Linked DNA regions of Homo sapiens: region 2 is linked to region 1. The links come from fine-mapping of genetic effects on gene expression. A gene starts in region 1. The other region holds a variant in brackets. All regions are shown on one strand. Distances are from middle to middle. Region 1 holds the start of CCNJL (cyclin J like). Region 2 has its middle 61 kb from the start of MIR146A.

Region 1 (11,718 bases):
ATGTAAAGTATTAGCAAGAGTTTTTATCATTTATATTATGCATGCCAGTTTTAAATGCAAAAATAAGAACACAGCTCACATGCAAAATCACTGAAATTACACAAATTCTATTTTGTAGCCTGAACATGCATATATATTTCATTCTTTCCGTAATGGTGAAAACACTCCACAAAATTAAGTTAACTATTTTTATTTCACTCTCGATACATGCACATCCAATCAACACGCTCTACCTTAGGCATAATACTAATGAGTAAGGAAGAGCTGAAGGAAGAGGAACTATGGGTTGCCCCATTTTTCCCTTTCTATTTATGTCATAATACATGGTTGCCTAACACAGGGACACAACACCCCTAAGAAAGCATATGATAGGGTTCCCCGGTCATTCATCTTTCCTAGAATACTATTGCCTTCTGTTATGGATTGAATGGTGTACCTCCACAAAAGATAAGTTGAAGTCTTAACCCTCAGTAGCTCACAATGTGACCTTATTAGGAAATAGGTTCATTGCAGATGTCATTAGTTCAGATGACATCATATTGAGTAGGGTGGGCCCTTAGTCCAATATGACCGGTGTCCTTGTAAGAAGACATGGCCCGGCGTGGTGGCTCACGCCTGTAATTCCAGCACTTTGGGAGGCCAAGGTGGGTAGATCACCTGAGGTCAGGAGTTCAACACCAGCCTGGTCAACATGGTGAAACCCTGTCTCTACTAAAAATACAAAAATTAGCCAGGCATGGTGGTGCGTGCCTGTAATCCCAGCTACTGGGGAGGCTGAGGCAGGAGAATTGCTTGAACCCTGGAGGCAGTGGTTGCAGTGAGCCGAGATTGTGCTACTGCACTCCAGCCTGGCAACAGAGTGAGACTCCATCTCAAAAAAAAAAAACAAAAAAAGAAGAAGAAAAAGAAGACTACGTGAAGAGAAAGAGAAGAAGCCCGTGTGAAGACACAGGCAGGGTCTGGAGTGCTGTAGCTACAAGCCAAGGAAGAACAAGGGACTCCAGTTGTAATACCTGGCCACCCCCAAAAACCAGGAAGAGGAAAAAAGAATTTTTCCTTAGAGTTTTCAGAGGGAGTGTGGCCCTACTGATGCCTTGATTTGGGACTTCTAGTACCCAGAATCGTGAGAGAGGAAAGTTCTCTTGTTTCAAGCCATCCCATTGTTGTACTTTGTTATGGCAGCCCCAGAAACTGATAACACCTTCTTTCCGTGTTCCAAAGCAAGTTCTAGTTCAAATAGAAAGCACAGCCTCTCAGGTACTCCCCCCACCCCATGCCCACTTGTACACATGATCCACTGACCTTCTGCTCCCTTTGAATGTCACCAAACTCCATGCATCGCAGGTCCACTGGAATTCTATGCTCATGAGGCACGGGATATAGTACATGCAAACAGAGAACGGAACAGCAGACACTTATCATGTGTCTCCTCTGCTCCCTGCATGCTTCACTGTCCTGAAGGACTTCATTTACAAAACACAGGTTCAACGATAAAATTTTCTATATGGATGGAGCTGGCCCTGCGTGAGAGGGAGGTTTATTTTTCACTTATTCCTTCTGTGCCTTTTTAAATTTAAAAAAGTAATGTGGACCAGCTTTATGAATGTCCTAGGCTTTGAGTTCTGTTTGCAAAATGCTGCTTTTTTATTCTTCCTGCCTTGTTCTCAGACCTAATCTGCCGACTCATATCTCAAGAACTTGTAGTCAAGGATCATAAAGGATTTGGCAAATGTTCTCTTGACTAAGTAGAGCACACGATTAAAAATCATTTAAAGGCATTGGATTGGTTTTTGGTTAAAGATCAAAGTGGTAATAAGGCAGATGTCTTCCGTCTGTCTCTATAAACTGAGCCAGGCTTCATGCTTTTGGTCCTGAATGGAGCAGTGCCAACCATTAACACCATGAGGAAACACTATTCAAAGTATATGCCTCAACTTCCCCTGGACAGTTGAGTATTTGAGGAATTTATATGCTTGACCCTGTCAGGATATTCACTGCAGTATGGTTACATGGAAGCAAATATTCACTGCAGTGTGGTTATATGGAAGCAGAAGGCTAGAAATGTATGGACATTCCCAGGCTAAATGTCCACACATCATGATGGATCCATACTATGGAACTACGGGATGCCATGCAGTTCTTTGGGCACTGCCATAAAACAACAAAACACAAAACAGTAAGGCACACAAGGATGTGTAGAGTATGCTACCTTTCATGTAAAAGGAGAAAAAGGCATGAATGTCTACACTGGTGAATGCATAAATCACTTCCGAAGGAAACATAAGACTCTGGTTATCATTGGGGAGGAGGAGAACAAGGCCTGGGACCAGAGGGAGAACGTGTACATTTTTCCATGTTTGAGAGTTTGTATCATATGAAAAGCAAAAGGAAAGTTCAGTGCAAACTGGGCAGTTGATAATATCACAGTGAAAATATTAGACCAATTTGTCCTCTAAGGAAGATTGAAAAGGGCAGATTTTTTTTTTTTTAGGGATATATAAGAAAGCTGAAGATAAGTAGAATGCACTTGCTCTAAATCTGTTGTTCCCAACCTGTGAGCTTCAGAGGTTGAGGGTGGAGGGATGGTAACTGACTCATGGTAAGCACTTAATGAAAGTTTAGTTTTTGAATGGCTTAATGAATGCTTCTTCTTGTCTTGGTTGGGGGTGGATGGGAGAAGTGATTCCAGTTGCATTGGTACTTCCTGCTGCCCGGCACAGGAAGCCTTCTCTGCTAAGGGCACCTGTGGACAGTGACTCAGCACAAAACCATCTGTTTATTGGTGCAATGTATATTTACTCTTCAGAAATACTGAGAAAATGAGGGACTCTGGAGAATGATACACAAAGGGGTGTGGAATGAGTATGCTTAGAATCCTACTGAAATACCCCTGGAGAAAAGCCCAAAGCTTCTGCTTTCCCTCTTAGTTATCCAAACTCCTGATAATTGATAGCTGAAGTTTAGGAAAAGGGCAGTACATATTAGTGAATAATAAAGGCCTGTCTTCTTTCAATGTACCCAGCATAGAAAGACTGGGAAATAAATAATACTGCTATGAAAAACAAAACAAAACAACAATGCTGTTCATTGTTGTTGAATGGAAGAACCCTCTAGTACATATTGATATGTCATGTGATTATTTTAAAGTAACATTCACTCTTTTTTTCTGGTTATGAAATAATGCATATTTCTTGTTGAAAATTTAGAAAATACAGAAATATTAGGAAAAAAGGTAAATTAAAATTTACCATAATCCTACCACTCTGATTACACAGTTAATATTTTTGCATATGTGTGTGTGCATGAATGTAGTTTAACTGGGATCGTACTCTAATCTTTTTTTGTTTTTATTCATCCCCTTAAAGACAGCTTATTCTTTCTCTTGTTTTTGTTTTTGTTTTCAGAGGCAGTGTCTCGCTCTGTTGCCCAGGCTGGAGTGCAGTGGCACAATCACGGCTCACTGCTGCCTCAACCTTTGGTGCTCAAGTGATTCTTCTATTTCAGCTTTCTGAGCAGCTAAGACTACAGGTGTATACCACCACACCTGGCTAGTGTGTGTGTGTGTGTGTGTGTGTGTGTGTGTGTGTGTGTTGGGGGGCGGGGGCGGGATCTTGCTATGTTGCCCAAGCTGGTCTTGAACTCCTGGCCTCATGCAATTCTCCCACCTCAGCCTGCCAGTGTGCTAGGATTACAGGCATGAGCCACCGTGCCCAGCCCAGTTTATCCTTTTTATTTAATAAATTATAAACATTTTCTCCAATTCATCATGCATCCTTTAAAAAATGCTTTTAAGAGACAAATAATTATTAAACCAGTTCCCTGTTCTAATGGTTCACTATGATGAAAAAGCATTTTTGATGAAACACCTTTGAAATAAATCTGCTTTTTTTAAAAGAATAAATTTCTACAGGTGGAAGAGTTGGATCAAATAATACAGTTTAAAATGTTTTGATTTATGTTGTCTTTCAGAAAGATGGTCTTAATTTATATTCCCAACAACACTGTGGATTGACCAAAATTCCTTAACAAAAAAGTACCCCACTGTTTTTTTAAAAAAAGCTTTTAATTTGCATGCTAGGGAGTATGAGCATTTTAAAAATAACATCTATCCATATGAATTCCTTCTCTGACGGCATACCTACTCATGTCTTGCATCCATTTCTGCACGTAGGGTGTTAATGTTTTACATACCGATTTATCAGAGGTCTAGAAAGTAGCATCAACCTTTTGTCACATTTGTTAAAAATATTTTCTCAAATTTGTCGTTTGCCTTTTTGGCAATGATAATTGATGTATCTAGATCCTGCATATTTATTCAAATTTGTCTACTCACCTTGCCTTTGGTTTCTTCCCATGTCTTAGTATCTAGGCCTTCCCCTCCGTATAATTCGTGTATGTTTTCTTCTTATCCTCTTGTGATTTGCTTGTTTGTAGTTCTCTGAGTTCTTATATTTATTTTGGTGATATTTAAACAAGTCCTTAGTTTTACTTTTTTCCCCCAACCTAATTTATTAAATAATTTAGCCGTTTATACTTGTCCCAACAAAGTGAAATGCCACATTTATCATACAGTGAATTTTTAAATATATTAAATTTTCCTAGACTTTCAGTTATTCCACTGATGCTTAATCCATCCATTCTTGTGTGAACACTACACTGTTTTAACTATAGTGTTGCAATATGCTTTAAGATTTGATAATACAGGTCTGTCCCCCCAGTTTTTTTGTTCGTTTGTTTGTTGAGACGGAGTTTCACTCTTGTTGCCCAAGCTGGAGTGCAGTGGCACGATCTCGGCTCACTGCAACCTCCGCCTCCCAGATGCAAGTGACTCTCCTGCCTCAGCCTACCAAGTAGCTGGGATTACAGGCGTGCACCACCACACTCGGCTAATTTTTTGTATTTTTAGTAGAAACAGGGTTTCACCATGTTAGCCAGTTTGGTCTCAAACTCCTGACCTCAGGTGATCTGCCTGCCCTTGGCCTCCCAAAGTGTTGGGATTACAGGCGTGAGCCACCGCGCCCCGCCATCCCCCCATTTTTAAAATATAAATTTCTTAGCTTTTCTCGCAGATATTCTCCCATTTGAAGGTTAGAAAACATGTTAAGTGCCCCCTCCTCCAATCTACCCACAACCATTAAAATTTTATTAAATAGAGTAATTTGGGTTAAGTTGGTGTTTGTGCCTCTATTCCTTCAAGCCTTCTTTATTATGTTTCAACCTTTGTAATGTCTTCATTAAGAGCCTGCACATTTATTCAGTTTATTTTTAGGTATCTTACACTTTTAAAATGGTTCGTTTGTTTTACATTAAAACTGCTCTTCAAGGTCCAATTGAAGCTTATCAAAGCTGATTTAATTTTTTTTTCCCAGGTGTGTCTTTATGTGCAGGAAAGCAGTCAGAAACTAAAGGCTCTTCAGTCACAGTTGTTTACTGAGTGTTCACTTAATACCTGGTGTAGTGATTATCCCTTTACACGCATTATCTCCTTTAATTTTCAGCAGGTTGGTTTAACTTTTATTTCCATTTTACACACGAGGCTCTGAGTTTGAGGAACTTGACAAAAATCACCCAGTTGGTAAGTGGATTTGATTCCAAATTTGTGAATCTCCAAAACTATCACAAAAATCAATCAGCCAAGAAGGATAGCCCAATGCTATGCCATCAGATGGGCTGACTCAAAAGGATGACTTTCCAAAAGCAAGCAATTGAATTAAAAAGACAATGTTTTCCATCCACCGGACCCGGCAAAAAAAGACTGGTTTTCCTCCAATGTGAGGCATAGTTCATATTCTGCAGGAGCACAATAATACCAGTGACTTAGGCTCCTTTAGAATTAGGGACTCGTGGGTGAACAAGGGTGGTTTTTCTGCAGCTTTCACTGGAATTGTCCGTTTGGAAATCTACCTCCCCATGGCAGGGCGGGTTTCAAAGAAGAGGAGAACAAACAAAAAACAAAAACAGGAAAAAAAAAAAAAGAGAGAGAGAAAGAAAAACAGGTGGAACCGACGTAAGGATGGCTAGAGCAGTGCGCGCGGAAGGCAGAACTTTCTGGGGGCGTCCTGTCCGCACGTTTCACGCGTGGTGCGCGCAGGTGGCGCCGCGGTCCCTTTGCTCCCTGCGCAAGCCGGAGGGGTGCCCAGAAGGCTACCACTAGCCTCAGCGAAGGTGAGAGAGAAGCTTTCCGCCGAAGCGAGGGAGGAGGGCGGGCAGGAAGCGGAGCCAGAGCTGGCAAAGAAAGGCTCCAATTCCCAGCCCCCCGCCCCGCGGGGCGCGGGGGCGCCGGCAGCGCATGCGCGAGGCCCGGCCCCCAATTCCCCCAGCGAGGGAGGGAGGCCCCCGGCGGCCGGGAGCCTGCGAGCCGCGGCGGGACCCGAGCGCACGCAGGGGCGCGGCGACGGCGGGGGCTAGTCGGGCTGCGGAGGCGGCCGTCGGGAGTGCGGAGCGCCTCGGACGAGGGTCCAACCGCCGGCAGGCACCAGAGGGCACGGCTGGCTCGGCACTGGGAGGGGCCCGGCGCTCGCAGCCCCCCACGCCCAGAGAGGATGCGTGAGTTTCGCCCCGGCTCGAGGGCAGGATGTGGGAGCAGGACAAAGGCTGGGCGGCGGGGGAGGAGTTGGGGACGGCGAGCCTGTGGCCGCCGCCAGAGCCCCAGCCTCGAGCGAGCTAGCGGAGTTGACAACTTTCTCTGCAACTTTTGCAAAAGGGAAGATAAAAATTCTGCAAGTTGTTGCACAGCTCCATATCGCCCCGTGTCCGGCGAGCAGAGGGGAGGGGGCACCGCAGCCTTCCGCGGACCAGAGGCGACCTCCAGCTCCTCTGAGCGGCGCAGGAGGGGGCGCCCGCCGGGGCCCGGGGCCAGGGGCGAGAGAGGATAGGGACACCGGGGGTCGGAGCCCGGGGTACGCTCTGGCCGCTGAAGTTGCCCGTGTCCACGCAGGGTGCGCCCTGAGAGCCGGGTAGCCTCGGATAGCGGCGCTGCGTACGCGATGATGGATGAGCCGTGGTGGGAAGGGCGCGTCGCCTCGGACGTCCACTGCACCCTGCGCGAGAAGGTCAGTCCCTCCCTGCCCTTGTCACTCTCAAGACTGGGTACAGTCTCCTTCGGTCTCGACTTCGTGTTCTCAGGTCGCCTGCGTGGGAACTCAGAACTCCCGGGTGCCTTTTTTTCCTCTTACCCTTTACCTTCTCCCGGAGTGTCTGAGCGGAATTGGGGGGCGGGGGTTAGAGACTGGAGATGGGAGAGATTGAAGTTGGTTTTTCTGATAAGGAGCTCAGAACTCTGGGCCAACTAGTCAGAGACAGCCACTGTACCTCTAAGGCAGTGTTTCCTATAGTATTGCCACCCTAGGTTATTTTAAACCGTACGTGAAGGGGTCTTTAAAAAATATTGTGTATTCATTCTAATGTGTAATTTAAGAATGTGTATGTATCTAGCAAGCTCTGCGTTTGCGATTTTCCATTTATTGTAATAATGATGTCGCAGTTTATTTTAAAACAAATTTAAGTAAAAGTAGTAACTCTATATAAAGATAAGTGGTAGTACAGGGAATACATGGTTATGGCCAAATACGTGTATCTATGTGTATATCTAGAATGGGACCGAATGAAATTTAAGGAACACCTGTATAATTGAAAGAGGCTACAAAACAGGGAGGCTGAGGGAAGAAAACAAAAACTCCCCTGCCGGTTTGCCTCCTGTGGCAGAAGGTGGGTGGGAGCAGCTGAAATGTGATCCCTGCACACCCCTCCCCTCAAGGAGAGAAGGGCTGAGGGGCATTGGGAAGGTGGAAGAGTCCAGGTGGGCTGGAGGCATGGCCTGTGTGTCTTGCCTCCAGTCCCTGGGCTGAGATTGGCAAGGGGTGGCTTGGGGAACAGGTGTGAAGTAGTGAATGGATTGGTTTCCTAGGGCTGCCATTACAAAGGACCACACAAACTGGAGGGCTTAAAGCAACAGAAATTTATTTCAGCTCTGGAAGCTGAAGATCCCAGATCAAGGTGTTAGCAGGGCCATGACTCTCAAAAGGCTCTAGAGAAGGATCTTTCCTTCTTCCTTCTTAAATTTGCTGGTGCTTGGTCATCCTTGGCATTCCTCGGCTTGTAGGTACATCATTCCAGTCTCTGCCTCCACTGTCACATGGTGCTATCTGTCTGTCTGTTTTCTCTTCTTACAAGGATACCCGATCATTGGAGTAGAACCCACCCTAATCCAATGTGATGTCATCATAATTTAATTACATCTGAAAAGACTCCATTTCCAAGTAAGGTCACATTCTGAAGTTCCAGATTAACATGACATTTGGGGGGACACTACTGCGCCCAATACAGGGAGGAAAAGGTCTTCCTAGTGCAGTACCTGAGCCCCCACACAGGTTTCACAGTCAGTGCATTTGCTCCGAGTGTCTGGAGGAGTTCTGCTTAAAGGGTCACCAGCTACTCAGTGTTTTTACCTCATTGAGTAGCTGTCTTCCTGTCCAATTAATGCCTTTTTCTTTTCTTTCTGTACCTGCTGACCTGTCTTTGTCCTGCGTTGCTTGGCAAGGCTGTGGCTTTCATCTGTTCCCTTGGTCTTCTTCCCAGAACAGAGTGGCCAACGTGTGGCACATTCTAGGCATCTGGACAAGAAGAAATCCAGGTCTTGTTGGTTCAGTTGAAAAGCAAGGAAAGTGGTAGGGGTATGGTCCTGGCCCTTTTCTGGAGGAGGTGGCTGAATGGAGCTAGTGAGGACTGCCGTGGAAATTGGGCTTCCTTGTTTATCATAGACTCAAGTGGTTGTCATTTCTGCTCATAGCTTAGGAGGAACGACTTCTACCTGATTTGCCCCTTTCTAGAGGGAAGGATTTCTAAGAGCAATAAATGCCATTTGTTTAGTTACCTGAGAATGCCCAACCTTTTATACATAAGGGAGGATGTCCTAAATGTTCCTTCGGCTGCTCAAAGAAGCAAGAAAGGCTCCATGAACTGCTATAGCCATGTCATAGTGCCGTATGAGTTTACTATTGGGCTGCCCACCTCGGAGAGACGATGAGTTTGTCCCAGTTTTGCAGGTTAGAAATAGAAAGCTCACCCAAGGACTGATGGCCAAGGTCAACCTTGACTTAAAGCTGGCCTTATTAGGACAAATCCCAAGTTCCTTTGGTTATAATGTCCCACCTCCTCAAAATACTGCTATTGTTCTCCTTTACTTTATTTCCTCTCCCACTTCAAAGAAGAAAATGCTTCTTCAAAAATTTGGCTTCATGGAGTTTGGCAAGAAGAGTGAAGAATAGGGGAACTTAGTAGCCATACTAGCCTCGCCTTTCTTGAGGAATGAGGGCTGGCATTTTGTTTTTCTCAGACAGGGTAATTGTTTTTCTCAAATGTCTACTCTGATAATATGTTTCTAACACTGTAGAACAACTTTACAAGAGCGTGGCACACAGTAGACACTCTTAGTTGAATGTTGCCTGATGAATACAAAGCATGTTTACATATGTGCTGTGTAACTGTTTCCATACAACCACAAGCAATTATCCTCACCTGACCGACACAGGAGGCGAAGTTGAGATCACTGAGACGTTGGGAGCCCCAGTTTGTCAAATATGAGATTCCAGTCTGGCATCATACTACAGGGTATCAAAAACTTGACACCATGGAAACAAGTCTTGGTACTGCATGCACGCTAGTGATGGAAGTGAAACCCTGATCTGCTCATTTAACCTCTCTAAATCTGGCCCCTATCATCCATTCTTCCCAGAATAGCCAGAATTTAGATTGTGTCATTCTCTGCTTAAAGACCTCCAATGTCATCTCACTGCACTTAAAATTCCCAGTCCTTACCACTGCGTGGAATACCCAGCATAGCCTGGCTCTGGCCTGCTCTCTGACCTTGTCTCTTACCCCTTCCCTACCCTCCATGCCATTGCTCTTAAGCCACACTGACCTCCTTTCTGTTCCTGGAACAAGTCAAGCTTGTTCATGTCTCAGGGTCTTTGCACTGGCTCTTTCCTCTATTTGGATTCTGTGTTTCTCAGACTCTCACATGGTTGCTTGTCTCCCTTAATCTATTGCTGCCTCTCCATGTCACTCTATTAAATCACCTTGCTTTTTCTTTGTAGCATTTACCAGGATCTGAAGTGTTTTTCTGTTTTTTGTTTGTTTGGTTGGTTGGTTTCTTTGAGACGGAGTCTCACTCTGTCGCACAGGCTAGAGTGCAGTGGCACTATCAGCTCAGTGCAACCTCCGCCTCCCGGGTTCACACCATTCTCCTGCCTCAGCCTCCTGAGTAGCTGGGATTACAGGCATGTGCCACCACACCCAGCTAATTTTCGTATTTTTAGTAGAGACGGGGTTTCACCTGTTGGTCAGGCTGGTCTCGAAGAACCCCTGACCTCGTTATCCGTCAGCCTCGGCCTCCCAAAGTCCTGGGATTACAGGCGTGAGCCACCGTGCCTGGCCTGAAGTTATTTTTCGTTTGTTTGCTGCCTTTCTTCCCACACTAGAATACATGCTACACGAGAAGAGACCTGTGTCTGTCTTCTTCCTTGCGGGGGCCTCAGTGCCATGAACACAGCTTCCCGATGTGTATGGAATGACAAGGAGAATGAATAAGTCAGTCTTCGCTTTCCTCTTCTGTAAGCTGGGAGAAACGTTTTACAGCAATGTTAAGATTAAGTGAGATAACTTAAGAACAGTGTGAGGTGCATGGTGGGTACTTGGCAGGCATTGCACCTCTCCACTTAGGGTTGCTGCAAGACAGTGATGGCCCGTTCACATAGTGCTGCTCAGAGTAAGGCTTAGGGTTTGTGACCACCCTCCAAGGGGTCCACAGATGTGATGGGTAATCCTTGTAAGAAAGGCACTGTTAGCCACTTGGACCATTGGTCCTATGATGGTGTTGAAGTCAGGAAAGGGACTAGTTCACCAAAAATCATGTATCTACTGAGGGCTGGGAACCAGGAGTGAGACCCCATTGGTAAGACCCTCTAAGCAGCCTGGCATCCCAATGGGTGAATGTGGGGAGTTGAACCCTCCTCCAGCCCAAATTGCTCTGGAGAAATCTCTCCCTCCCCTTCCTGTAGGCCACCTTTATCCCATGCTCAGCCCTTAAATTCCTCCTTGGATCCTTCTTCCTGTCCCTGCTGCATCTGCAGAAGCCCACCTAGGACCCCGCTCCCTTCAGCTCCTCTGACCTTTCTGCTGGGGGTGGGAGTGCCAGCCAGTACAGGGATGTGGGGTTTCTTGCCTGCTACGTGTGCCCCTTGACCCTCTTCCCTGAACCAAAAGGAGGAGTAGATTGTCACCAGGCTGGCGTCACCAGTGAGGAGGCTGCTAGTGATGTTTTTCTGGTAACCAAGTCTGTGCCAGGTCTGTCCAGATTAAAACTCGGGGCCATTTGTTTTTTTCTTGAAAGATGCATCCACCTAAGTTTAAAATTAATAGGGTGTTGAATCCAAGAACTAACAGATTTTGGTGAGTGCTGGTTACACATGATGGAACGAGAGCATTGGATGGTATGCAGCTTGAGGGCCACGTTCCTTGTCCCTTAAGCCTCTCCTTTGTCATGTGTCCTGGCCCCACCCTCATCCTTGCTTCTTTCACCATCTTTGTCACCCTGCATAGTGACTTGTCCTACCCACTAGACTGTGAGCTCCTTGCAGGTATGAGGTGTGCCTTGTTACCTTGGCATTCCCAGACCAGTGTCTGAGTCAGAGAGGGACCTCAGGGTGTCCCCCACCTCAC
Region 2 (11,718 bases), 230 kb before region 1:
CTGACTCCTGGTAAATTTATAATGCACTTTTAAAAATCCAACTCAGTTTCCCAACTCTCTATCAAGTTTAACAGGTGGACAAAAATATATCCCATGTTTACAGCACTTACTTCTTTCCAAAGCATTCTCAGGTGCCTTCATCTCAATTGAGCCTCATGACAGCCCTGTGAGGCAGACAGATGGAACAAATGTTATTATTCCTCTTTAAGATGACAAAACTGAGGCTTAGGAAAGAGACGTTCCCAAGTTCACAAAGCAACTGCATGGCAGAGCTGGGACTAGAATCCAGGTCTCCATAGGGCAGTGTCTCTCCAACTTTAAAGTCACTAAGATACACTGGGATGCTTGTCCTAATGCAGTGTCCTTGGCTTCAAACCCAGAGGTCCTGATTCCGTAAGTCTTCAGAGAAGCACAAGTACCTTCATTATCACCAGTGTGATTCTGATGCATAGACTCCAAAATCTCCATTAGTGAAACACTGCCATTGAGGAATTCTTCAGTCAATTACTTTGAATATTACCCTGCCCAGAAGAAAGGGAAAGGACCAGCTGATCTAATTCAAGATTCTTTCCAAACCCCTGGTATTTCATTTGCTTTCCCCTTTACTCTCTCTTATTGCCTGCTAATATCTTTCCAGAGAAATAATAATCAAAGACAAACTCTAGATCAGTGATGGTCAATGAGTTTCAGTTCAGCATTCTACCTCAGATCAACCAGCAGTGTCTTCTTAGAGCCTTGGATTAAGAAGCAATGAGGCTAAAAAAGAACAAGATCATGTCCTTTGCAGGGACATGGATGTAGCTGGAGGCCATTATCCTTAGCAAACTAACGCAGGAGCAGAACAGCAAATACTGCATGTTCTCACTTACAAGTGGGAGCTAAATGATGAGAACACATAGACACATAGAGGGGAACAACACCCAATGGGACCTATTGGAGGGTGGGAGGAGGGAGAGAATCAGGAAAAATAACTAATGGATATTAGGTATAATACCTGAAATAATCTGTACAACAAACCCCCATGACACAAGTTTACCTATGTAACAAACCTGCACAGATACCTCTGAAGTTAAAATAAAACTTTAAAAAAAAAAAAAGAAGAAGAAGCAGCAATGAGGCTGCTCCCAGGCATGGCAGGAAAGTAAACTACGACCAGTTAGTCCTATCTGTCATGGGCACAGTGAGGATTCTGGCAGCCTTGCACTTTCATTGTTCTAGAGAGTGCTTCATCTCCAGTTCTGTTCTTATTTTTCTAGTTAGAGAATATTTCTACAAAGAGAGACCTAGTTTCTGACTATAGATAGTAAGAAATGAATTTTATAAATTGCTTCTATGCTGCCCATAAACTATGGGTTCTGCTTGGGACATTCTGGATGCCATGATTCAGATGTAAATATCCCCTGAAATCCATCAATGTCTGGGTAGCTGATTAAGCACCATGGACTATAACAGTGTTCCCTTCTCTAATCTTCAGGCATTTTTGATTTTTGTGAGCTGATGTATTACCGCTGTAAGGGGACTTTCTCACACCTTCTGCTCATGATAACAGATGAGATGTGAAATTGATTCTGAGCACCTAGGAGGGTTATGATTTATCATCACATATTAAGCCTCATGGAGCTTTACTGGATGAATCCCAACTACACTCAGAATCCAACCACACTTCTAGAAAGAGAACATGGAGTGACTCAAGATACATTAAAATCAGATGTTTCACCGTTGACACCCATAAGGGACTCCGTTTCATTCATTCAATCAACAAATATTTACTGAACACCTAGCATGTGCCAGGAAATGTTCTAGGAGCTGCAGATATTGCACTGGACAAGAAAGACAAGGTCTCCTCAGACCCACTTATCCCTAGCGCTGGCTCCCCTCCCTGATTGTAACTGGCACTCACCATTGAGTGAACACACCAACAGCCTGGTGCCTGGGGATCAGTCCTCAAGGTGGCCTGAACTGGACATCATTCCACACTTCTCTGGACTCCAGAAGCTTGAAGGAGTCAACTTGATGATGGCTAATGCCTTTATCATGACTCCATGCTGATCCTTCAATGCAAAGGACGTGCCCACAGAGATCTCTACTGAGGGTGTGTATTCCATGTGAGCCTCCCGGGAAGTCCCTCAGTGGAGGATCAGCTTTGGGCAAAAGACTTACCCAACTGAAAGTATGTAGACAGGAAAGAAATCTCCTTTCTGCTAAACAGTGCCTTAAAATATATTCTTAGCACAAGGTGGGGCAAGGGAAATGGCAGGCAGGGCTTCAGAATCTCATAACAAGGTTTATTTTTAAATAAACACTCCTAAGTCTCTGCTCCCTCACCTCTGAGTTCTGCCTCTGAAGACTTGGGTTGGGTCTAAGTCATATCTATTTTGAAAAAGTCCCCATAGGTGATTCTGATGAATCTAGAAAACATGGCATTCAAGTTTCACTTAGATATAGACCAAGCCTCTGTCAAAACAAAAGGTACAGCCAGGCATGGTGGCACCTGAGGTGGGAGGATTGCATGAACCCAGGAGTTCAAGTTTATAGTGAACTATGATCACACCACTGTACTCCAGCCTGGGCTACAGAGTGAGACCCTGTCTCAAGAAAACAAACAAAAAAAAAGTTACAAGGTACAAATATTGTCAAAGTTGGGGGGAATATAAACCCACTGGGCTGGGAGCCATGAAGCTTGAGTTCTAGACAGCTGTGTGGCCTCAGACTATCTGCTTTAGTTTCTGGGCTCCAGTTTCATTATATGCACAATGAGGGGAAAGGGGTCAACGATTTTTTTTTTTTTTTTTTTTTTTGAGACGGAGTCTTACTCTGTCGCCAGGCTAGAGTGCAGTGGCACAATCTTGGCTTACTGCAACTTCTGCCTCCCGGGTTCAAGCGATTCACCTGCCTTAGCCTCTCGAGTAGCTGGGACTACAGGCGTGTGCCACCACACCCAGCTAATTTTGTATTTTTAGTAGAGACAGGGTTTCACCATGTTGGCCAGGATGGTCTCAATCTCTTGACTTCATGATCCACCCGCCTTGGCCTCCCAGAGTGCTGAGATTACAGGCATGAGCCCCTGCGCCCGGCCCAGTGATTTCTAAAGTGTCTTAAAGAGCTAAGATTATGTGGCTATGTTTTTTCACATTTGCAAGCCAATTTTAAACAGCAATTGACCAGGGTAAATCATTGATAAATAGTTCTTATAGGAAAGTCATGCATATTTTCAACACATTAGTCTTCCACATCAGTCCATTGTGTGTTTAAATGTCAACAGGATCCATAATTAAGCATCTGAGGTGTTCAGTGTGGAATTTTTATAAACTACCCAGTAGCAAATGTCCTTGTGCTATTTGTTCCCCTCTCTTCTGCCTTCCTGCCCCTTACCCCATCCTGTGGGTGTCCACACAACTGGAGTAGTTTGTAATCGGCTCTAAATGGCAGCTACTGGATTTCTCTAATAATATGCCTATAAATCTCTTTTTCTCATTAAAGAATCTAGAGTTGTGTCTTCTGACAGACTTTTGGCAGACTGGCTTTTTGCTTAATCATTTCCATGTGATTCACATCCTTGAAGTTTTTCATTCTGATTGTCCATCCCTCTACACCCCACTCACGTACACATGCATGTGAATATTCTCTGTCCTAATAGCTAAGACAATTCACCAAACAGCACATCAGCTGGCAAACATCAGATTTTTATATCTATTCTTTCTCCATAGAGATAACCTCTTTCAAGATAATGATGTGATTAAAATCTGACTTTCTTGCCCTTTCAAATGAGTTATCTAATCACAACTCTACCCATAGCCAAGCCACAGTGCGAAATCAACAAGAGTAATTCCCTGGGAATCCTTCACCACTTCACAGTTGACTCAGCCAGTGTTCCTCTATAGAATGGGGCTTACATTTTACTACTGCCCTGGAATCATAGCATATTAGAGCAATGGGTCTTTGCAATGATAAGAATCCCACAGCTTCTGTACTCTGCTCTATACTGCCAGCCCTGGAAGCCTACATGCTGCACTTCCCAGATTCCCTTGCCAGGGCTGTTGGTTAGGTTCAGCCAATGTGACTCATTGGCAGCAAGAAAGAAGTCATCCTGGGCGACAGAGCCAGACTCCGTCTCAAAAAAAAAAAAAAAAAAAAAAAAAGTCATCCTGATTCTAGCATTGGCAGAGTTTGCTGTCTCTTCAGCAATTCTAGCAGCAGCAGCATGACACATGTCCCTCTGAGGCCCCAGCACTGCCCATGAAAGCTCCAGACCAGCAGCATCCTTACCAAGAGACCTCCTTCTTCTTTTTAATCCTTAGCATACTCCTTCCTTCTATTCCTCCAGCCCTCTTAACACCTTTATAACTATGGTAGATGATTGGCAGAAAGTGGTCTCAATTAATCCCTTCCCTCTCTCCACAATGCTTTGCAATGTGACTTTAAAGCTTCTCTTATCAAAATATTAATTCCATTTCTCCACCTCTTGAGTCTGGGCTGGTCTTTTCTCTACCTCTTAAATCTGGGCTGGCCTTATGAATTTCTCTGGCCAATAAATTGCAGCCAAAGCATTATGGTATCAGTTCTGATTCTAAATCTAAAGAGACTTTGCATGCTTCCACTGTTACTTTGGGAATCCTGCTGTGCTGCCATATGAACAAGCCCAGGCTAGCCTGCTAGAAGATGAGAGACATCACGGAGTAGAAGCAAGTGGCCCCAGCCAATAACCATCTGATATGGTTTTGCTGTGTCCCCTCCCAAATCTCATCTTGAATTGTAGCTCCCATAATTCCCACATGTTGTGGGAGGGAGCCAGTGGGAGATAATTGAATCATGGGTGCAGTTTCCCCCATACTGTTCTCATAGTAGTGAATAAGTCTCACAAGAGCTGATGGTTTTATAAGGGGAAACCCCTTCCGCTTGGCCCTCTGATTCTCTCTTGTCTGACGCCATGTAAGACGTGCCTTTTGCTTTCCACCATGATTGTTAGGCCTCCCTAGCCACATGGAACTGTGAGTCCATTAAACCTCTTTTTCTTTATAAATTACCCAGTCTTGGGTATGTCTTTATCAGCAGCATGAAAACAGACTAATACACCATCCAGACCCTAGAATCAGAGCCACCCCACTGGCCTGACACTCACCTCAGGCATACAAGGGAACCCAGTACAATTCCAATTACCAGTAGACTTATGAGCAGTAATAAATGATTGTTCTGTGTAGGATATAATAAATTTCTCTTCAAAGGTTTTAGCCTGTAAATTGTTAAGTGCAATGAGTTCTGAGATAAAAAACCAATGTATCAGTATATTCAGCTCCCCTGT[C/T]CTTTGTTCCTCATTTTAAAGTTTAACTCCCTTGTTCTTTACTTCTCCTTGCCCCCAGTTTCAGTAAACAACCCTCTCCCAGCCTCTATCACCTGCTCTGACCTTAGTCACCCTTGGTCACTTGCTCTGACCTTAGTCATCCTTGGTCACCTGCTCTGTTCCTAGTCATCCTGAGTCACCTGTTCTGTAACCATCCTTCCCGCCTAACTACTCACCCCGCCACTCTGGCTTGTACCCCTGCTCTCTTTAAAATAGCCAGTTGTAATTAGCTTACACTGTGTGGTCCAACCCTAGCCAATAGGGGAAAGACACAGCAGTAGGGACCAGCTGCATTAGGATAAGAACCCCTTCCCCTCCCTTGTCCGGTGTGCTTTCACCATTGCTCCATTGGTGAGATGCACCCTTCTATAGAAGTAAATTGCCTTGCTGAAAAAATTTATGCTCAAGTGCTATTTCTTTTGCAGCACCGAAAGTTTATTTCTAACATTCTGTTTTAAGCTACTGGTATTAGTATGTTTTGTTACCCTAAAATAAATAACTGATACAGTAACTGATTCCTTGCATTAAATCTCTCTCCATTGCTGTTTTTCTGACTGGACCATGATTGATAAAGGAAACTTGTAAAAAATGAAAATCTCCAGTTCAAGCACCCCAGGCAATTTTGATATACATGGTCTCAGACCATTCTTTGCCAAACACAGCTTTCAAGGGGCTGAAGACATCATCTTGTCTATGCTTTCCCCTCTCAGGCAGTTAATAGATAAGATCACCCTTAAGGAAAAGCTCAGCCTGTTTAAATACTTGGCAACCGATTCCAATGTCCAATGAATGTCTCATCATTGTCAAGGATTCTTTTTTGCTTAATTACTACCCTCATCCCCTCAAGTGGCAGTTTTTGTCTCTTCTTATTTCTTGCTCAGAAGGAAAAAATAGAGGCTTGTAGATATCCCCCCATGTTTATTGAGTTATAATTGACAAAAAATGTAGATATTTAGTGTGCACAATGTGATGTTTTGATATACATATACACTGTGAAGCGATTACCACAGTCAAGCTAATTAACACATTCATACCTCCTATACAGGTATGTGCCAAATCACATTTCAGTGGATGGATGGCATATGCAACAGTGGTCTCATAGGATTATACTGCATTTTTACTTTACCTTTTCTATGTTTAGATACACAAACACCATTGTTTTACAATTGCCTACAGTATTTAGCACATGCTGTACAGGTTTGTAGCCTAAGAACAATAGGCTAGACCATACAGCCTGGGTGTGTAGTAGGCTCTGCCATCTAGGTTTGTGTAAGCACACTCTATGATGTTCACACCAAGATGAAATCACCTAATGACACACTGCTCAGAATACATCCCTGTCATTAAATGACTCATGACTAGCTACTTTTGTGCCTGTGTGTGTGCATGCGTGCATGCATGTGGAGAGAATGCTTAAGATCTAAGATCTATTCTCTTAGCAAATATCAAGCATACAATACATTATTATCAACTATACTCATCATGCTGTACATTTTATCTCCAGAACTTATTATCTTGTAACTGAAAATTTTTACCCTTTGATCAAAATCCTCCCAGTTCCCCCACCCCCAGTCTCTGGCAACCACTTTTCTACTCTGTGTTTCTATAAGTTCAGTCTCTTTATATTCCACATATAAGTGAGCACATGCAGTGTTTGTCTTTCTGCTTTACCTAACATAATATCCTCTCTGAGTTTATTCATGTTGTCACAAGTGGCAGGATTTCCTTCTTTTGAAGGATATTTTCTATAAGTAAAACATTTTTCCCACCCCTAAGTTAACTAACTCCAGCTAGATTCTTTAAGTGTTCATCTCTGGTCCATTGGAATTATTAAAAACAAACAAGCTCACTTTGGTATCAGACTGATCTTAGATAATCCCTGCTCTACTATGTAACTTTCTGTACATCATCAAGCTCTCTATACCTCAGTTTTCTCACCTGCAAAATAAGGTCTGATGTGAAAAATAAATGAAACAAACTTTGCAGGAACTTAATGTGTCAGGTTTTGTCTTTCTTTTCCCCAAGTCTGTTCTCCAAGATAGAGAGAAAATGAAATACTATGAATATGGTATGGATCCAAAACCCCAGGTTATAAACTTTTATCAGAGCATCATGAACAGACTCTCCCATAATGATGACCAAAAAGGCCCCCACGCCTATGGCTACTGCTGTGAAGGGCCAGTGCTGAAGCCAGCCACATGCCCTGCTCCATGAGGAAGGAACACCCCAGAAAAACCTGCCTCAAGGGAAGATCCAGAAGAGGCTGATCACTACCTCTGAGTTCACCCAAGCAGCGAAAAGGTTTTAATTGGGCAACGAAGGAAAAAAAAAAAGGGAAAGAAGGCAAATTTATATTGCCCAACAACTGTCAACACTTTAAGTACATCTTCCACACTCACTGAAAGAAGCAGAGAACAACAGGTGAGACAAGATCTCAGAGGAAACATGGAGAAGGGGGTTCACATCACATGCCCCATAGTAACCACTTCTCATTTGCCTCATTAGGTCTCTGTTCTCTAAGGCCCTCCTAGGCTTTGCTTGAGGAAAAGGCAGGGAGGGGTCAAGAAGAAAGAGTAGAAGGGAGGCCAGGAAAGAATATCGAGTTTCTCTCTTCTTCCCACACAATGTCCAGCCTCGTTGGATCCTGCCTCCCTCCAAAACACCTGCTTTACTATTTGAACAATTAAGCAGCATTTTTTAATACTTAAGATTCACCCTACCCTAAGCAAAGTCTTTTTTTTAAGACAAAGTGTGCTCCCCAAGAAACAGCCTAATGAATGGAGTTGTCTCCACTGATGTGTATATGTCTGTGTGTGTCTATACACAGTATTCTGTAATCAAAATCCCATATATACACACAATGAATACTGAGAATATACGGTCCTTAATCTCAATTTTATTGAAACATAATTATACATATTTATGTGGTACAGGTGATATTTTGATACATGCATACAATGTGTAATCAGGGTATTTAGGCTATCCAGAACCTCAAACATTTGTCATTTCTTTGTGTTATGAACATCTCAAATGTTCTCTTCCAGCCATTTTGAAATATACAATAAATTATTGTTAACTATAGTCTCCCTACTATACCAGCCAATACTAGAACTTATTCCTTCTATCTAAATGTATTTTATACCCATTAACCAACCTCCATTCATCTTCACCTCCACCCTTCCCAGCCACTGGTAACCATCATTCTACTCTCTACCTTCATGAGATTAACTTTTTTAGCTCCCACTTATGAGTGAGAACACGCAAAGTTTGTCTATCTGTGCCTGGCTTATTCCACTTAACATAATGATCTCCAGTTCCATCAATATTTCTGCAAATGACAGGATTTCATTCTTTTTTATGGATGAATAGTATTCTATTGCATATATATACCACCTTTTCTTTATCCATTCATCTATTGATTGACACTTAGGTTGATTCCACATCTTGGCTATTGTGAATGGCACTGCAATAAACATGGGGGTGCAATTGTCCTTTTGATGTACTGATCTCCTTTCCTTTGGATAAACACCCAATGGTGGGTACTGCCAGACCATCTCGCAGTTATTTCTATTTTTAATTATTTGAGAAACCTTCATACTGTTTTCCATAAGGGCTGTACTAACTTACATTTCTACCAACAGTGTATACACCAACAGTGTATAATTTTCCCCAAAGCCTTACTGACATTTGTTATTTTTTTGTCTTTCTGACAATAGCCGTTCTGACTGGGGTGAGATGATATCTCATTGTGGTTCAGATTTGCATTTTTCTGATGATGAGTGATGTTGAGCTGGAAGAGAAGTTCAATGACCTTGGCCAACCCATCTCCTTCTCTACACCTCTGCCCACACCAGGTAAATTATGTAGAAATTAGACCAGATAATGTCTAAAATCCCTTCCAGCCCTGAATATTCATATGGTAAATTCTTCCCCAACATTTTGTTATATTCTGAGTTTTATTCTCTTCCTTACGAAGGCAACTAAAGAGCATTAGGGGAGAAAAGGGAAAAGCAAATGCTATAGAAGTGTGTTTATTAACCAACATAGAGAAATAAAAAGGCAACAGAGGGGATTCTATTTATATCTCCCTCAAGGATTATGCCATAATCTGTATTATTTGATTTTTTAATGCATTCATTCAGAGCTGGAGCCCTGTAGGGTGCTCTTTAAGCCTGACACTGAATGAAATAATTCAATTAAAATAAGCTTGAAGCCTTTTCAAGGCATTAAACTCCCTGAAGAGAAGATTTAGGACTGGCTCGAGTTGGTTTTAGCATCAGCATTGGTGAGACCATAGGAAAGCATCGGAAGGGTTTGGCAATGAGTGATTCTGGAGGCATTAGAAGATGTGAGTTCCAGGCTGCTTGGAAAGGGACTATCAATATTGGAACTGTGCTTCAGGGAAAACAGACTCTTCCCCAAAGCTTCTAAACAATTCACTGGAGTCTGACATTCATTTTATCATATACTCCAGATAAAACCTATTCTTCCATATAAGAAAAGGAAGTTTAATAACTATTGATAACAATATGCCATTCATTGAGTGTTCTTTATATCCTAGATTTCCTCATGTTCCATGCATTATTTTATACAGTCTTCACAACTGTCTGAAGTTAAAAATTATCAAGCCCATTTTATAGATGAGGAAACTGAGGCTGCCAAGAAGTGCCTTGATTTGCCCCAGATTACACAGCTAAGAAACTGCAGATTCAAACCCCCAAGTCCATGGTGCCAAAGCTAGTGCTCTTCAGCACTATACTACTTAAAATGCAAGCAACATGTTATTGCAGGAAATGGAACTGGGAAGAGGGCTAGGAGAGAAGCGTGTCCATACAAAGAAATAGAGACACAGTCCCTTCCCCCAGGGGCACACTGTCTGGCTTGCAAACATGATTCATCCTCAGAATAGCTTGAACTAAATTAAAAATGACTAAAGTTAGAGCCATACCTGAGAGCAAGTTTTCACGTGGGCAGGACAGAAAGAAGGGGATTAAGGAAGAGAAAGGTATGATATGGACACGCTAAGGACCTAAGTCACCCTTCGCAAGTCTGCCCAAGGCCAGAGCAGCTACCTAGGTTTTTTTGTTTGTTTGTGTTTACACTGGGCATTCCATGGCACTAGGAATTCTGTCTTCCTCATCCAGCTGCATATCATCAGTACCTGGCACCTATATTTTGTTTGGAGTGGGGCATGGTCAGGGGATTTCAGATATATATCATGTCAGGTATAAGAGATGCTAAAGGCTAAACTGACCACTCTGAATTTCTAGCCCTAGTTTGGTGGTTTGAAAACTTAAGTGTATGTTAGAATCACCTTGGGAGCTTGTTAAAACACAGATTGTTGACCCCTAATCCCAGAATTTCTGATTCAGTAGATGGGAGAAGTTTTATATTTCTTACTAGTTCCCAGGCAATGCTAATGCTGCTCCTTCAGAGTCTAGCCCTTTGAGAATCAGCAGCAACCTCCATTGTGCATGAGAATCACATTGGGGAGCTATGAAAACGTTTAGGCCATCCTCCTGATAAATTACATCAGAATCCCCGTGGGTGGGGCCAACGTATGCACGTTTTTAAAAACTGGGTATTCCGTGTGCAGCCATACCACAAAGTAATGTAGAAGATACGTGAGCCTGAAATTAGTGCACCATAAAAGTAACTAATATTTACTGAGCACTTAGCATGTGACAGTCACCCTACTAAATATGTTACCACATGATCTCACTTAATCCACACACGAACTTTTCAAGTAGGGACTATTATTCCCATTTTACTTATAAGGAGGGTCAGAGAAAGTAAGATATTTGTCCTAGGGTATAAATTGTTAAGTGACAACGTGGGAATCAAATTCAGATCTCTGTGTCCATAAAGCCTCCTACCACTCAGGGTCTTTAGCTCCCTTCACCAAGCCACTTAGTGCTCTGGCCTCTGCCTTAAATCTTCAGTTTTTTGATTGAGTCCAGATGCCAAAATAATCTAAGATGGAGCAATTTCAATCAACCTCATATTTGGCATCACATAACCCAACATATATATGTGTGCATTCATAGATACATATGTGAATGAACAAATGAAAATCACAGAATGGTTGTTTTATTTAATTCAACATTCTTTTTTATAAACCCAGTTACTGTCTGGCTTATCCTCTTTTGATGGCTCATTACCATTTCCAAGAAAAGTTCAAACTCAAAATGTGGCATTCAAGGCCCTTCATGATGAGGTCTCTGTTTCTGACTCTCCAGCCCCTCGGCCGTCCTCCTCTATTCTCACCAATCTATTTCCAATTCCCCAAATCCAACCATGCCATCATGCCTTTGCTCATGTTTTGCTTTCTCCTTCTTTTCTCCTTCATTCCTTCTTCCTTCCTTCCTATCCAACTGGAG

What was found.
Region 2: its variant is fine-mapped to the expression of CCNJL in left ventricle (GTEx, PIP 0.96).

The regions. Positions count from the first base shown.
Region 1 is chr5:160,307,192-160,318,909 of GRCh38, reverse strand. CCNJL (cyclin J like) reads left to right here and starts at 6,346. Exons shown (of 6, transcript NM_001308173.3): 1 at 6,346-6,546; 2 at 6,938-7,052. The coding sequence starts at 6,987. RefSeq lists silencers at 6,128-6,187, 6,298-6,417.
Region 2 is chr5:160,540,986-160,552,703 of GRCh38, reverse strand. No RefSeq gene overlaps it. Among named protein-coding and RNA genes, the nearest start is that of MIR146A, 61 kb to the right of the region's middle. The variant C/T (reference allele first, on the strand shown) is at 5,300.